2 separate regions of the Homo sapiens genome follow, and region 1 is linked to region 2. Evidence: fine-mapped expression QTL. Tissue or cell type: whole blood. Region 2 holds a variant in brackets; the other region holds the start of a gene. All regions are shown on one strand. Distances are between the middles of the regions.

Region 1 (8,321 bases), 42 kb after region 2:
CGGGCTCTGCCCCTGGAACCCTGAGGACAGGAAGCCCTGTGCATGCAGAAACCAGGCCCTGGCCCCGCTGACAGCCCTCCCTGGTGCCACGTGTTTCCACCACTGGTGCCCAGGGGCTCCCCGCCCTTGGGCCAGAAGCTCGAGGACAACCTGTGTGACCCTCTGTTGCCTTCTCGCTTTCCTCTTTTTCCCTCTTTTCTCCACGTGTGGTGACGACGCCCTCTCTGCAAACGCCCTCCCCAGAGGGTTTCATGCCGGACTCTGGTGCCCTTACCTTGACAGACTCCTCCAGCTGGGACAGGGCCTCCTCGTACCGAGGAACCAGCGGCTGCAGCAGCTTGCTGGAGAGCTCGTGCCGCTGCAACTCAGGTGCCCCAGCTTCAGTTAGCATTCGGAGGAATCTCCTCTCCTGGAGAGAAGCTCATGGTGGAAGGGGGTTCTTGGGCCAGCCCCTTAACACCCACCAACAGCAGAAACTCCCAAGACCCTCGCAGCCTCACCTGCACTTTCAGGAGCAGTGTGAAGGCCTGTCCAGTTTTCCCAGCGCGAGCTGTCCTCCCAACCCTGGAATCAAACGCAGCTATCTCCAGACTGGCCCCTGAGCCTTCAAGAGTCTGACGGAACGACAGCTTCTCTCCACACCAACCCCACCCCACGCCAGTCAAGACGGTCCCACATCAACGCCCAGGAGCTCACAAAGCCCCAGACCCCCCAGTGGCCGCTGCGCCAGCGCTCACCGGTGCACGTAGGTTCTCAGGTACTGGGGGGCGTCGTAGTTCACCACCAGCTCCACACCCTGCACGTCGATGCCTCGCGCGGTGGCGTCCGTGCTGATGAGCCTGCCGGGACACGCAGCATTGTGGGCCCGACGTGCCAGGAGCAGGGGCCGTGGCAGCACCGGCCCTGCGGGGGGCAGCTCAGGCCTTTCTGGGAACTGGCTGCCATGGGGCTGGGGCACAGGAAGCCAATTTGCAGAAGGAAGCACCTTTTAGAGAGCCCCAGGCTGACCCTGGAGTGGGCACCCCCACCCCACAGAGGCCTTGCCCCTGCCCAGGAACTCACAGCTGGATCTTCCCCTGTTCAAACTGCTTCAGGATCATCCTCCTCTGGCCAGGCCCGTAGCGCGAGGAGAACTCAGCCACGTCCACACCCCCAAAAGCTTGCACCAGCAGGAAGAGCCTAGGCAGAGAGAAGGCTGCGGCCAAGTGATGCTGGGACCAGAGGCCACCTCTGCCACCCCCGCCCAGCCGGGGCCTCACCTGTGGGAGTTCTCTCGGGAGTTAGTGAAGCAGAGAACCCTCGAGAAGCCCATCTCCAGGACCAGGTGCAGGACGACCAGCGGCTTAGAGCTGAGGCTGCAGGGCACGTAGTGGTGCTACAGGGACGGCAGGGGGTCGGGGTGGAGGTGAGGGTTGGTTAGGGGCCCCAGGTTCCCAGTGCAACCCTCTGCCCACACGGTATCCCACTCACCGTGAGCCCAACAGGAAAGGCATACTTCCCCGAATCCCCGTCCCCATCTGTATCTTCCAGGCCCCTGTGTGCTAGCCCTGTGGAGAAAAGCCGGGGCTGGTGGAGGCCCAGCTGCTGCAGCTTTTCAGGGTTCTGGGTCAGAGTAGCTGAGAAGAGCAGCTTCTGCAGGGGCATCTGGGGACAGCAGGTGCTGGAAGAGAAGGGGGTGTTGCTGGCACCCTACCAGTGGCTGCCCCGAACCTCCAGGGAACAGGATTCCTCATGCTACGCACTGTAGAGACTGCCGCAGACCAGGAGCAAGGTGGGTCCAGCTCACGTGACAGTACGATGCGGTTCTGTGCACCAGAGCTCAAGCCACCCTTATCTCTGGGCATTAAGGAAGGAGAGCTGTGTGCAGAGGACTCTGCTCAGGGGAGGCCAGCACCTGGGCGTGCTGCTGGATACCTGGCGGCTGTCACAGCCTGGGCCTGCCTTCGCTGGAGCAGGGCACAGGGGTCCGCGGGGTCCTCGCTCTGGAAGGCGGCCGCCACCACCCGCGGCAGCCAGGACTGATGCATGCTGTCAATCATCCGGTCAGCCTCGTCGATAATCTGCAGGAGACAGGGAGCCCGGGACTGGGTGGCGCGGCCCTGAGCTCAAAGCCCAGGCCCCTGGGGCGGGGACCTACCAGGAAGCGGAGCTGCTGGAGGCTGAATCCTGGGGTCTGGTCGATGTGGTCCACCAGGCGGCCGGGGGTGGCTACCACGATGTCAGCCAAGCAGCGGTACCCATCAGCTCTACAGACCAGAGAGCAGCTCGAGAGAAGGAAGCTTTCTCAAGGGCTTCCGGATAGCAAGACGCTGCCTCACCCCACAGCCCCGACTCCACCCCACATGGGAAGGGGGCCGGTGGGAGCTCCTCCTCTTCACGGGAACAGGTGGTTAAAGATGGTGGCCCCTCCTCTGCTCCCACGGTGCCTCAGGCCACCTGCAGGGCTGAGCAGGGACCCCCTGAAAAACCCGCACCCTGACACAACCTACGTTTTCTGGACGAGGCTCTCCTGCTCCTTGGCCAGAGACTTCTGTCCCGTAACCAGGGAGACTCTCAGAGGTGTGGCATCTGTGTAGATGTTGAAAACTTTGCTCACCTGCAGGAGAAGTCTGTCACTGGCCTGGAGGTAGCTGGTGTCCACCTACTGCAGCAAAAAGGACCCCAGATCTAATCTGGGTCCCCCAGGGGCTGATCGCTGTGCACTCAGCAGGGAAGCTGAGGCGGGCGGTGCCACGCTCCAGGTCTAGGGTCCACATACCTGCTGGGCCAGCTCCTTGGTGGGCAGCACAACCAGGGCACGGATGTGGCAGACCACTCTCGAAAGCAGGGCCTGAGGGGGAAGGAGCGCCTGCGTCAGCAAGGCTGTTACCTGTCCTCTGCACACCCGCTGTAGAGAAAGGGGACCCTCACACAGACCTGCACCACAGGGATGACGAAGGCCAGTGTCTTCCCACTGCCTGTTGGGGCAGAAACACAGAGGTCGCTAGGCCGGTAGCCACCTCTGCCCACCAGAAACCCACAGGCTGCGCTCTCCAGGAGGGCAGGAATCACAGCTGCCTGGACTGGATGAGGAAAGGCGAGAGAGAAGTCGTGTTTACGCCTAGGCCTAGGCCTGCCGCTTCCCTGCCTGTGACCTCTGGGCTGGGCTGCTCTGCTGGAGGCCTGGGAACCGCTCCCCAGAGGGATGGCACCAAGGCCCAGAGGAACGCCAGCCTCAGGAGACCCAAGTGGGAACCATGAGCTTGAGAGTGCTGAGACCACACTTGGCACCGATGTGGCAGGGACGCCTGACCCACGGCCACTCACAGCCTTGTGTGTGGGTGCCCAGGGAGGTGTTCCCTCAGCTGCCTGCCCGGGGCTGGGGCACCTGGAAAGTAGGACGAGATGCCGTGTGCCCGCAGCTGCTTCTGCAGGTCAGGATGGACGTCAGGGATGTCCTCGATAGGAACCAGGTCTTCGGTGACATTCCTTCTGACACAGTTAGGCTCAGCCAGCCACCTTGGCAGGAAAGGCTGGACCTGCCATCAAAAAGAAAGAGAGGCCAGGTGAGCGCTTTCCAGGCTCTCGCGCAGAAGCCCACGGTGGAAAAAGCTAGGGGAGGGAGGCTGGGGAAACCTCTGTCGTCTTCAGCTCCTTCTCAGCCCCAGGATGCGCTTTCCATACAGCCTTCAGAAGTTAAACAGTAAAAGCAGATGCCACTCCCTGAGCAAACTCACTCTGTAGCCTCCCATCAACCCACAGTGGCACCCACCCTCCCGCAGCCAGGAGGTCCTGTGACCTGGCGCTCGCCTGCCCCAGCCACGCCGGCGTCCCTGCCTCGAGGCCTCTGCCTGGCACCCCCAACCCCCAACCTTGACCTGGCTTCAAGTCTTTGCATCCCAACTCAAAGAGAACCTCCTCCACCTGCCCTACCTAAGGTGCCCGAGCACTCTGTCAAACTTCTCGCTTTCTTCACCTGTCTCGCCGGAAATCTCTTTACCGAAAACCACACGTGCTAAGCAAAAACACCAACGGTCAGGAGCTTGCAGAACGGCCTCTGACTTACTCCTGAGGCGGTGAGCGCACAGCAGGAAACCCCGCACGTTCACGCAAACACATCTTGCAGAACTGGCGCGGCGCGGCGGGAGGACAGGGGCAAGCCTAGCAGAGGAAACGGGAGCTCTGCACGTGCAGGATCCAGACCCCTAGGCGATGAAACTGCAGACCTGGCAGCGAGGCGCGGCTGTGACCCGGGAACATTCGCTGAACGAAATCTTCCGGGGCGACCGCCGCACTTAAGAATCCGCGCAGCCTACCCTCTCACGCCGACCACCCTCCCGCCCGCCGAGGCTCACCTTCGGCGCCTTCCTCTTCCCGAACCCCCCCAGCACCAGGCCGGGGACCAGGGGTCCGGCCGCCTCCTCCAGGGCCGGTCCATCTGGGGCCGCCTCGGCGCTGGCGCTGGTGCTGCGCTCCCCCGGCGCCTCCTCGCTGCTCCCTGCGCTGGGCTCCCCTGGCGCCTCCTCGCTGCTCCCTGCGCTGGGCTCCCCTGGCGCCTCCTCGTTGCTTTCTGCGAGGCAGACACCCACCCGGCAGCGCGTCAGCACCGAGTCGCCGGCGCCCCAGAGGGAGCCCGCTCGCCCCGCGGCCCACCTGCGCCCGCGTCCTCGCCGTCCGCCTTCCGTCGCTTTCCCTGCGGCGCCTCCGGGCTCCCCGGCTCCGCGTCGTTCACCCGCCGCCGCCGCCGGGGCCGCCGTCGCCTCCTGGTCGCCGGCTCGGTCGATGCAGCCGCCTCGGTCTGCGCGGGCTCCCGCTGCTGCTGCCGTTCGCGGGCCCGGCTCTGCAGCCGCTCGAGCAGCGCGCGGGCCCTGCCGTGCGCCCCGGCCTCCGCGCCCTCCGGCCCCGCCGCAGCTGCCGCATCGGGGCCCGGGTACCGCGCGACGTAGAACAGCGCCATGGCCAGCCGCACGCCTGGGACTCGGGCGTGGCGCGCTGCGATGACGTCGGCGGCACGCCTGCGACTCGGGCTCCGCGCAAAAGATGGGGTTGGGGTACGGCGCGTAGAGATGACGTCGGGTTCTACGCGCAGTGGTGACGTCACGGGAGCGCCGGCGGCTGAGAATCCGCGTTGTTCCGTGTTGGGGGCGGCATGGAGCGGGAGCCGGGCGCCGCGGGAGTTCGCCGGGCTCTGGGCCGCCGGCTGGAGGCGGTGCTGGCGAGCCGCAGTGAGGCCAACGCCGTGTTCGACATCCTGGCCGTGCTGCAGGTGGGCCTGGCGGCGTCGCAGGGCCGGAGTCGCGGCACGGGAGCGGGACTTGAATGGGGGGCTGCGGCGGCAGGTCCCCAGGAGGTTCCGAGACGGCGTTGGGGGGTCAGGGTGGGAGGCGTGTGGGTCACGGGTCGGGGGTGACGGGGCTGGCGTCCCGAGGGGGAAGGGAACGGGTTGGGGGCAGCCTAGGCAGGGGCGAAGGTGACAGTTGGCGGCCGGGCACCCTGCCGCCGCCTCTCCTGCAGTCTGAGGACCAGGAGGAGATCCAGGAAGCAGTCCGCACGTGCAGCCGTCTTTTCGGGGCCTTGCTGGAGCGGGGAGAGCTGTTTGTGGGCCAGCTGCCCTCTGAGGAGATGGTCATGACAGGTGAGCCCTGGAGGGCCCCGGGGCTGCTCTTCTCTTTCCGTGGGTCGGAGGGAGGCTTTGTCACCATGGGATGAGCGCCCCCAACCCTGGCACAGGCCGTGCAGGCTGGTGGGAGGACGCACCAAGCCCACCGTGGAAGATGGATGGTGGCGTTGGGGCAGGGGTGACATGGGTGCCCTGCAGCTGAGTGTAGATGAACACTGGACAAGGTACGACTTTTTGTGTGCTTTGCACCCCTTTTGTAATTTGATGTTGACTGATCCTGACACGGTCGCTTAAACTCGGAGCTTCCTTTATGTCCCCATCCTGGGGACGTCAGGTCTTGGAGTAAAGAGAGGGGATGTGGATCCTGCTCCTGGCAGCTTGGCTGGGGCAGTCCTGGGGTAGGAGGTGCTCTTCCTGTTTGCAGGGCTCAGGGAATGTGCTGGTCTCAGCACAGGTCTGGGGGCCTTAGCGACCTGTTTCCACCTGCGGAGGCTGAGTAGAAGACAATGGGAGGGTGGAGCCAGGCCTGAGATTTTGGGCTGGGCCCAGGGTGGCGTATGTGGGCCTCACGTGGGCTGACCACCCTAACCTGTCTGCAGGGTCCCAGGGAGCCACACGGAAGTACAAGGTGTGGATGAGACACCGCTATCACAGCTGCTGCAATCGCTTGGGAGAGCTCCTGGGCCACCCCTCCTTTCAGGTCAAGGTGGGTCATTGGGCTGGCCTCATCCTTGTCCATCCCCTGCACCCCAACTCCCAGGTTATCCACAAAGCAGAGGTCTGGGGCTCCCACAATTGTCCAGGCAAAGCTGCTTCCTTCATGGGAGCATCACCCTGTGGGTGTTCAGTCCCATTCAGAAACATGGCTATCGAGTCCTGTAGTGAATATTGAAGACGCAGAATCCGTGTTCATTTCCAGTGGCATCCACGGGGATCTCTGTGTTTGCATAGAGCACGCACACCAAGCCTCGTGCCAGTCCACAGATGTGTTTGCTCAGATCACACTGTGGTCTGCAGCCATGGGAATGCATTATGAGCTTTCTTAAAATCTGTAGTGAGGAATAACTGAGGCACAGTTTACCGTTTAAAGCTGAGAAGTTAGCATCTGTTACTGTGTTGTGCAGTGGTTGCCGCTATCCCAGAACATCTTTATCGCCCCGAAAAGAAATCCTGTACCAGTTACCATCGCTTCCATATCCCGCCCCTTTCCACCCCCAGCCCCAGGCAGCCACTCCTGGATCAGTGGTTACTTCCTGGATCAATGGGTTTGCTTTTTTTAGACGCTCCTCATAAGGGGGATCATACGGTATGTGGCTTCTTCCACTCATCGGCGTGTTCGAAGTTCGTTCTCTTTGTGGCTGAGTAGCAGCGCGTCGTATAGCACAGCACGTATCGTTCAGCCGCTCGTAGGTTGCTGGGCATTTGCGTCGTTTCCACCTTTGGCTGTTACGAACAGCGGACTGTGAACGTTCGCGTACAAACTCTTGTGTGATGTTTCTTTTGCTTGAATATGCCTTATCAGTGGAATTACAAGGCCACACAGCAGCTGTGTTTTTAATGTTCTGAGGAACTACAAGACTGTTTTCCATAGTAGCTGCGCTATCTTACCCTCCCCCTGGCAGCATTTGAGAGTTCCATACTCCACATCCTCGCCAACACGTCTGTCTATAATTATAGCCGAGCTGCAGACTTTTAAATGTTGGGGAGATACCACGTGAAAATAACCAGTTTCCACCTTCTCAGAAAGAAATAATCAGTTCTGTCAACACGGGGTCTAAGTTTGTTCATGGCTGCGATTGGCTGGAGGGAGAGTCAGAGACAGCTCTGAGACAGCCGTGTGCTCCTGTCATCCCGCACGAGGCTCTTTTGCTTTGTGGTGTCATTTGCCTGGGCCCTGAAAGCACTGAGTTTGCCACCCCGAGATGAGAGCTTCCAAGCCTGGGTCTGAGTTGGGCACCATGCTGGCATCACACGCCTGTGTTTTCACAGCTGTTCCCAAGGGTTATGGTGGCATTCCCGTGACACAGGTGACGAGAGAGCAGTCAGGTGGCCCATAAAGCAGACCTGGGCTGTGTACCCTTCCCCCGCCAGACTCTGTCGTGAGCACTGGATCTCTTTAACTAGAGATCTTGTCATCTCTACGTCATGGGTGGGACACGGAAGCCCAGAGTGGCATCTGGTGGCGTGTGGAGCAAGAGAAGGCCCGGCCGCCCTTTTCTCAGCTCTGGGCCTAGATGGGAGGGGCTCCCTGACTGGGCTGAGCTCTGGGCCCATCCGTGGGGTGAGGGCATCACAGCCACCCTGCACTGCCCCCTTCCCAGGAGCTGGCCCTCAGCGCACTCCTGAAGTTCGTGCAGCTGGAAGGAGCGCACCCCCTGGAGAAGTCCAAGTGGGAAGGCAACTACCTGTTCCCCCGAGAGCTCTTCAAGGTGAGGGCCTTGCTGGGGACTCCCAGAGGGCCTGGCTGGCTGGCCAGATCCCAGGATGGCCCCGTAGTGGGGGCGGGGCCTGCTGAGCTGAGCCTGGCTGTTGGCTGGGACACTCCTGTGGCTCCTGTGGCCCACCCAACCAGGAGGAGTCTGCCTGGGGGGCTCGATGGGGCAGGGCTGCCTGCCTGGACCTTGCTGGCGTATGCTGGGCCGGGCAGGGCTGCTCACTGGTCCTTGCCCCTAGTTGGTGGTGGGAGGCCTGCTGTCTCCTGAGGAGGACCAGAGCCTGCTCC
Region 2 (8,321 bases):
GGATGAGAGTTCATTTTTTTGCATATGGATGTCCAGCTGTTTCAGCATCATTTTTGAACACATTATCCTTTCTCCACTTTATGATCTTCGCCTCTGTTGAAAATTTATTAACCATGTATATGTGAATCTATTTCTGGCATTCTGTAAGATTGTTCCATTTCCACGCTGTCTTAATTGCTGTGGCTTTATAATACACGTTAAAGTCAGGAAATCTAAATCTTTTTGTCTTTTTCATAATTTTGGCTCTTCTAGGTTCTTTGCATTTCCTTATGAACTTTAAAATCTGCTTCTCAATTTCTGTTAAAAGCCTCTTGGGGTTTTGATTGACATTACATTCAATTTTTAGATCAATTTTGGGAGAACTGACATATTAACAATACTGAGTCTTCTGATTCATGAGCACTATTAATGTCTTTAAAATTTTCTCTCTGCAGTGTTTTGTGGTTTTGATGTACAGGTCTTGCACATCTATCAGATTTATTCTTGAGTATTTTATATTTTTTGAAATAATTTTTTTTTGAGACAGGGTCTTACTCTGTCTCCCAGGCTAAAGTACAGTGGCACAATTATAGCTCGCTGCAACCTCTATCTCCTGGGCTCAAGTGATCCTCCCACTATAGTCTCCCAAGTAGCTGGGACTACAGGTGTATACCACCACCCCCAGCTAATTTTTTTTTTTCTGTGGAGATGGGGTCTTACTATGTTTCCCAGGCTGGTCTTGAATTCCTTGGTTCAAGTGATCCTTCTGCCTTGGCCTCCCAAAGTGCTGGGATTGCAGGCGTGAGCCATTGTGCCTGGCAGGATTTTCTCAGAGATGATTATTTTGCCTGAGAATGAAGGGCTTTAATCTTTTTCCCTTACAGTCTGTCTGTGTTTTATTTCTTTTTCTTGACTGACTGTGCTGCTACAATCTCCATGTTGAGTCCAAGTACTGAGAGAGGATGTCCTGTATCAGTTCGTTCTCACACCGCTATAAAGAAATACCTGAGACTGGGTAATTTATAAAGAAAACAGTTTTAATTGGCTCACGGTTCTGCAGGCTGTACAGAAAGCATGATGCTGGCATCTGCTCGGCTTCTGGGGAGGCCTCAGGAACTTACAATCTTGGCAGAAGGCAAAGGGGGAGTGAACACGATATGGCCAGAGCAGGAGTAAGAGAGAGAAGGGGAGGTGATGCACACTTTTTTTGTTTTAGACAGAGTCTCACTCCATCACCCAGGCTGGAGTGCAGTGGTGTGATATTGGCTCACTACAACCTCCGCCTCCCAGGTTCAAGCGATTCTCCTGTCTCAACCTCCTGAGTAGCTAGGATTACAGGCGTGCGCCACCACGCCTGGCTAATTTTGTATTTTTAGTAGAGACGGGGTTTTGCCAAGTTGGCCAGGCTGGTCTCGAACTCCTGACCTCAAGTGATCCACTTGCCTCGGCCTCCCAAACTGCTGGGATTACAGGCGTGAGCCACCACGCCTGGCTGGTGATACACACTTTTAAAATGACCAGATCTCATGAGAATTCACTGTTGCGACCAAGGGGGATGGTGTAACACTATGAGAAACTGCCCCCATGATCCAGTCACCTCCCATCTGGCCCTTCCTCCAACACTGGGGATCACAATTCGACATGAGGTTTGGTGGGGACACAGATCCAAACTGTATTACATCCCTTCCTTGTTTCTGTCTTAAGAGGGAAAGCTTTCAGGCTTTTACCATCGAGTATCATATTAGCTGTTGTAGCCACTGAGATTCTTTATCAGGTCGAGGAAGTTTTCTTCTTCCCAAGTTTACTATATAGAACCAGATTTTCACCTTGGATCTGTTTTCCTTATTCCTAAAGTATGTCCTTCATTTCTTGTACTGCACATCTGCTGGTGGTGAATTCTTTCAGTTTTGTACATTTGGAAAAATCTTTGTCTTTTTTCTTTCTTTTTTTTTTTTTTTTAGACTAGAGTCTCACTCTGTCACTCAGGCTGGAGTGCAGTGGCCTGATCTCAGTTCACTACAACCTCCGCCTCCCAGGGGTTCAAGCAATTCTCCTGCCTCAGCCTCCCAAGTAGCTGGGATTACAGGCGTGTGCCACCACGCCTGGCTAATTTTTGTATTTTTAGTAGAGATGGGGTTTCGCCATGTTGGCCAGGCTGGTCTCAAACTCCCGACCTCAAGTGATCCGCCTGCTTCAGCCTCCCAAAGTGCTGGGATTCACTCTAATACACTAAGTTCACTCTAATACGACGAATACGGATGAACTGCTGGTTGGCCTTCGCCTCCTCCAGCACGCGTTCTGATTGTTGCTGGCCTGCCTGCATGGCCCGGGGAGGGCTCCTCTTCCTTCTCCCTGCTGCAGCTCTGTTGTGCCCCCGGAGTATTCTGAGCCCGTTTTCTAGTTCCAGGCCTGCGTCAGTGTAGGGTGACAGGAAGGGTCCTCTGCTGCACTCCACCTCAGGAAAAGCACCGTCTGTGGAGGAGAATCTGAACTGAGGAGGAAGCCCTGCCCAGCAGCCTGGGGGCTCCCAGGGATGTCTGCTGCATGGAGACTGCAGAAACCTGTGGTGGGGCAGAGAGTTCCAGTTTGGCCGTGTGTTGACTGCCCTCATGCAGACTCTACCAGCGGCCAAAGCGGTGTCTGGAGACGACAGTGTGTGTGCCTAGGGCACACAGGCACGGAGACACCGCCAGCCCTTTGTGTTGTGATCAGGGCTGGCGGGAGGCTCTGACTAGGGCTGTGGGAAGGGGACGTGTGCACTGTCCTCTTTCTGAGCGTTGCTGTGGTGGGAGTCCTGTCACGGGGAGCAGTCATGGAAGAGGACCGGCCCCTCCTCCCAGGTACAAGCACAGGCTCCTGTGCACTCCGACTCGCTGTTCCCCTCATCTGGCCTCCCCAGAGCCCAGGCACTGCCTGCTAACCCCAGACCTTCTGTGGTCCACTTAGGACTCTTGCCCACCATTGGTCCTGCCGGCCGGCCCGCCCAGGCTGGGCTTTCTCAGGGGGACTCCAGCTGCCCTTCTGCCCCATGAGGAGACACTAGCTCCCTTGGCCTCATTCCCTTACTGGCAACTGAGGGTCTGGTTCTTAGAGTCCCTTATGTGTAAACATGTAAAGCTTGTGGCTGTGAGGTGTGTTTGGTAAGAACAGTCCACAGCTTTCACCAGATTCTCAGGAGTGTCAGTGGCCCCTTCCCGGTCAATAAGTTGAAGAGCCGGGGTCAGTCTGGCTGCCACTGAGGGCCAGGCTGCCTCCTTGTGTGCTTGGGTGGCCTGACTGCAAGGAGATGCTCTCACTCAGCCCTGGACACACGGTGCAGATGGTGTGGCGGGTCAGCCCCACAGGGCCACCTCCTCAGTCTTGGGTTCTCAGCCTCAGCTGGTTCACATTTGGGGCCAGAAGATTCCTCCTGGTGGGGCCGTGCTGTGTGTTGTAGGATGGTTAGAGACCTCCAGGCCTCTACCCACCAAATGCCAGCAGTTCTCCCACCCTTATCAGTTGTGACAACCAAAAATGCCTCCAGACATTGCCTGATGTCCCCTGCGGGCACAGTCTTCCGAAGTACAGAGCCACTGATCTATCTGATCTTAGAAAGAGACTGTAGTCATTGCATTTCCGTAGGAAAAGGTGTTCTGAGTTAGAAATAATGTACAAATAGTTTTTTGCCTTGTATCTTCTATGCACCTTCTAATTATTATTTTACTAGATTACAGTCCCTCATGTGCAAACTTTGCACACCTGGAAGAAGAGTTTACTAGTAAGCAAAAGCACTTTTTTTTTTTTTTTTTTTGAGACAGAGTCTCGCTCTGTCGCCAGGCTGGAGTGCAGTGGCACGATCTCGGCTCACTGCAAGCTCCACCTCCCAGGTTCAAGTGATTCTCCTGCCTCAGCCACCCGAGTAGCTGGGACTCCAGGTACCTGCCACCATGCCAGCTACTTTTTGTATTTTTAGTAGAGACGGGCCAACATCACCATGTTGGCCAGATGGTCTTGATCTCTTGACCTCATGATCCGCCTGCCTCGGCCTCCCAAAGTGCTGGGATTACAGGTGTGAGCCACTGCGCCCAGCCAGGAAAACCACTTTTTAAAAAGATGCCTTTTTTTCCGTGTGGATATAAAAATGCCACATAGTAATTAGAGAACATCTAGAAAGCATAAAAAAGTATAAAAAGGGAAAAAATCATTATAATCCACCTAACCCAGAGACCACCACCTGTGGACACATTTTGAGTCTTTTTATTACATCTTTAAAATTACATAATTTTGGATCTTGAATTTTTCCATTTAAAATCAAACATAAAGAGTGTGTTTATCAAGCACTCTTTATAGTGGTTTTGCTGGCAAGCGTCGCTTCGTGCCTGCCTGGCTCGCCACACCTCGTGCTGGATGTGAGCTTGCACCGTTTTCACGTAAGCACTGTCTACTGTGTCCCTGAGCATCAGGCGTTAGGAGAGGCGGCTTCTGTAGTGGGTGGTATCTTTGCAGCTTTTTGAATGTTTCCCTTGAATTTCTATGA[A/T]GGTGATGATGGAAAAGACATCAGGTCTAAGCTGTCCATAAAATGCATTTGTCTGTAATACATGTCCTTCATTAAAAAACACGTGGCAGTTGGGGTCTACTGTCATGGTAGGAAGGTGGGAGCTGGACTCTCCTCCCAGCCGGGGTCAGGCCACACCTGGAGTGCCTCAGGTGCACTCTGTGCCCGTGTTTCCAGCCTGTCTCTGGAATGACTACTTCTGAACAGATTCCCTTTGCCTTTTTCTACCAGGCAGTATGCACTGAGTCCTTCAGGACAGATTAAATGATGAAAACCGTCCATCAAGTGTTCAGTCTTCATGCAGGATCACATCCGTGGAACTGATGTTTTAGCACTGGGGTTGATAGTGTCCAAGTCCCAGATTCAGGGGCAGGCTCAGGACCTGTCCACGGTGTTGGCCTATAGTGAGGCCCATGGGCCTCGGAGCCCGTGTGCCTGGAGCTGGACCATGGCTCCACCACTTCGTAGCTTGGCCCGATGTGGGCAAAGGATTACCTAGGTGCCGAGGCAACAGACTGAAGGCACAAACTGTTTCAGTATAATAAAGAAAATAGTTAGAATAAGAATAGTCATAATACGAATCAGATACAGAGCTGATCATGGACAATTATCAATCATTAGTATAAACATTATTAATCATTAACTTTTAATATTACTCTGTTGCATTACTAATATAACCTAGGAATAACCTGCGGGTATAGGGTCAGGTGCTGAAGCGACATTGTGAGAAGTGACCTAGAAGGCAAGAGGTGAGCCCTCTGTCATGCCCGCATAAGGGCCGCTTGAGGGCTCCTTGGTCAAGCGGTAACGCCAGTGTCTGGGAAGGCACCTGTTACTTAGCAGACTGTGGAAGGGAGTCTCCTTTCCTTGGAGGAGTCAGGGAACACTCTGCTCCACCAGCTTCCTGTGGGAGGCTGGATATTCTCCAGGCCTGCCCGCAGTCATCCGGAGGCCTAAACCCCTCCCTGTGGTGCTTCAATGGTCACACTCCTTGTCCACTTTCATGCTCCTCCTGCACTCCTGGTTCCTCTTTGGAGTTCTTAGTAGATAGCAGAAGAAGAAATAGTGGAAGTCTTAAAGTCTTTGATCTTTCTTATAAGTGCATAGAAGAAAACGCTGACATTTGCTGCCTTCCCTCTCTGCTTCAGCTACCTAAAAGGGAAGGGCCCCCTGTCGTGTGATCACGTGACTTGCTTCACCTTGTCAATCACTTAGAAGATTCACCCTCCTTACCCTGCCCCCTCGTCCTGTATGCAATAAATATCAGCGCACCCAGCCGTTCGGGGCCACTACCGGTCTCCGCGTGTTGATGGTAGTGGTCCCCCGGGCACAGCTGCTTTCTCTTTATTTTTTTGTCTTGTGTCTTTATTTCTTACAATCTCTCGTCTCCGCACACGGGGAGAACACCCGCTAAGCCCTGTAGAGCTGGACCTTACAGCCCAGGGAGCTCATTTCTCGCTGCCTCAGTGTCTCTCTGTGTAAATGGGCTATCAATAGGAGTGACCCCATGGCATGACTGTGAAAACTAAATGAGATCACGTAAGGGGCGTAGAGAACCTTTGTGACCCTGAGCCACCGTCTGCCACCCGCTGGGGATGCCCTGCTGTGCTGTACTTCTCTCCCTTCTCCCCCTCCCATGCTCTTCATCGCTAGCACTTTCAGCCCCTTGCGGTAGACTTGGATTAGGCAGGTATGAATACTTCAGTTCGAGAAAAGTGTGAGGCAGGGAAGCTTCCGAGCATCTCTTGCTGAGCAGATATTCTGATCTGAGCCTTTTTTGCCCTGGGTAGCAGTCTCGTGCCTGGGGTTTGCTGGGCCCGCATTGGCCCCTCCTGAGCCACCTTTCCAGACACCTGTGCAGGCTCCGAAAGGCGCCCGGGCATGGAGCTCACCTCACTCAACTCTAACTTTTCTGCATTTGTTTAGGGAGCATTTCCTGAAGACGTAGTCATGCAGCACGTCAGCAGCTCCCAGAGCAGCCAGCGCCATGTCCAGTGGCCTGGGGCCTGCCCCGGCGCGGGCGAGGAGCAGCCAGCGTGCTCCCAGCCGTCCCTGCCCCTCACACTGCCATCCCCCAGCCACCAACTACAGCAGCTGATGGTGAGAGGGGGCCCTGCGGGTGGGCAGAACATGAATGTTGACCTGCAGGGCGTGGGCCCTGGGCTCCAGGGAAGCCCACAGGTCACGCTGGCCCCACTGCCGCTCCCCAGCCCCACCTCTCCAGGCTTCCAGTTCAGCGCTCAGCCTCGGCGGTTTGAGCATGGGTCTCCATCATACATTCAGGTCACGTCCCCCTTGTCCCAGCAGGTCCAGACCCAGAGTCCCACGCAGCCCAGTCCGGGGCCGGGGCAGGCCTTGCAGAATGTGCGTGCAGGTGCCCCTGGCCCTGGGCTGGGCCTCTGCAGCAGCAGCCCTACAGGGGACTTCGTGGATGCCAGCGTGCTGGTGAGGCAGATCAGCTTGAGCCCCTCCAGTGGTGGACACTTTGTGTTTCAGGATGGGTCAGGGCTCACCCAGATCGCCCAGGGAGCCCAGGTTCAGCTCCAGCACCCGGGTACGCCCATCACAGTCCGAGAGCGGAGACCCTCCCAGCCCCACACACAGTCAGGGGGCACCATCCACCACCTGGGACCCCAGAGCCCTGCAGCCGCGGGTGGGGCCGGCCTGCAGCCCCTGGCCAGCCCAAGCCACATCACCACGGCTAACTTGCCACCGCAGATCAGCAGCATCATCCAGGGCCAGCTGGTTCAGCAGCAGCAGGTGCTGCAGGGGCCGCCGCTGCCCCGGCCCCTGGGCTTCGAGAGGACGCCCGGCGTGCTGCTCCCCGGGGCTGGGGGCGCAGCGGGGTTTGGGATGACGTCCCCACCCCCGCCCACCAGCCCTTCCAGGACTGCCGTGCCCCCAGGCCTTTCCAGCCTCCCACTCACGTCTGTGGGGAACACGGGAATGAAGAAGGTTCCCAAGAAGTTAGAGGAGATTCCCCCAGCCTCTCCGGAGATGGCACAGATGAGGAAGCAGTGCCTGGACTATCATCACCAGGAGATGCAGGCTCTGAAGGAGGTCTTCAAGGAGTATTTGATTGAACTGTTTTTCTTGCAACACTTTCAAGGGAACATGATGGATTTCTTAGCTTTCAAGGAGAGACTGTATGGACCATTACAAGCATATCTTAGGCAGAATGATTTGGACATTGAAGAAGAGGAAGAGGAGCACTTTGAAGTCATTAATGATGAGGTAACAGTTCTTTGTTTTGGTGCTTGTCATGGGAGGCAGAGCTCAGGGCTTATGCTGCGTGCAGGTGCAACGCAGAGCTTACCATCTCAGAGCATGCGTTCTAGGCACTTCACTTTAAAGACACACTGTGGCTGTGAATAGTGGTTTAAAGTCCCTCAGAGTCTCCCCACATTTACAGAGGGTGGTTCCAGGGATCCCAGCACATGGCTGAACCCCCAGCAGCATGGAAACTCCAGTGGTGTTCAGTCAGGCACCTCTGTGGCAGGTGCTCACGGCGGCAGCGTCCTGGCACCTTTCTTGGAATGCCACCACATTTGCCTGCTCCTAAACGGTTGTGCCGTGCAAGATGAGAACCCCAGAGTCCACCCTTGCCAGCTGCCTGCAGTCAGGGCTGGCTGGTCTCAAAGCCAAGATTCCAAGTTCCTGAACACACATCTCAATGTCAAGAGTTTCTGAACAAGTTACAGCTCTAACTTAGAATATACAGAGCAAAAATTTATAGAATTTCATTTTCTTTCTTTCTTTCTTTCTTTTTTTTTTGTGACAAAGTCTTGCTCTGTCGCCTAGGCTGGAG

Evidence for each region. PIP is the estimated chance that this variant, and not a neighbour inherited with it, causes the effect.
Region 1: NOC4L starts here. The variant in region 2 is fine-mapped to the expression of NOC4L in whole blood (TOPMed, PIP 0.90).

What each region holds. Positions count from the first base shown.
Region 1 is chr12:132,139,361-132,147,681 of GRCh38, forward strand. It overlaps NOC4L (nucleolar complex associated 4 homolog), which reads left to right and starts at 5,097. Exons shown (of 15, transcript NM_024078.3): 1 at 5,097-5,245; 2 at 5,494-5,614; 3 at 6,199-6,305; 4 at 7,921-8,028; 5 at 8,273-8,321. The coding sequence starts at 5,129. DDX51 (DEAD-box helicase 51) reads right to left here and starts at 4,959. Exons shown (of 15, transcript NM_175066.4): 1 at 4,633-4,959; 2 at 4,335-4,549; 3 at 3,368-3,518; 4 at 2,917-3,062; 5 at 2,759-2,830; 6 at 2,490-2,596; 7 at 2,138-2,246; 8 at 1,915-2,060; 9 at 1,471-1,660; 10 at 1,260-1,375; 11 at 1,063-1,179; 12 at 738-839; 13 at 501-564; 14 at 275-409. The coding sequence starts at 4,936. RefSeq lists enhancers at 3,045-3,950, 4,880-5,179 and silencers at 4,550-4,749, 4,820-4,869.
Region 2 is chr12:132,097,558-132,105,878 of GRCh38, forward strand. It overlaps the pseudogene EP400P1. Among named protein-coding and RNA genes, the nearest start is that of DDX51, 43 kb to the right of the region's middle. The variant A/T (reference allele first, on the strand shown) is at 4,496.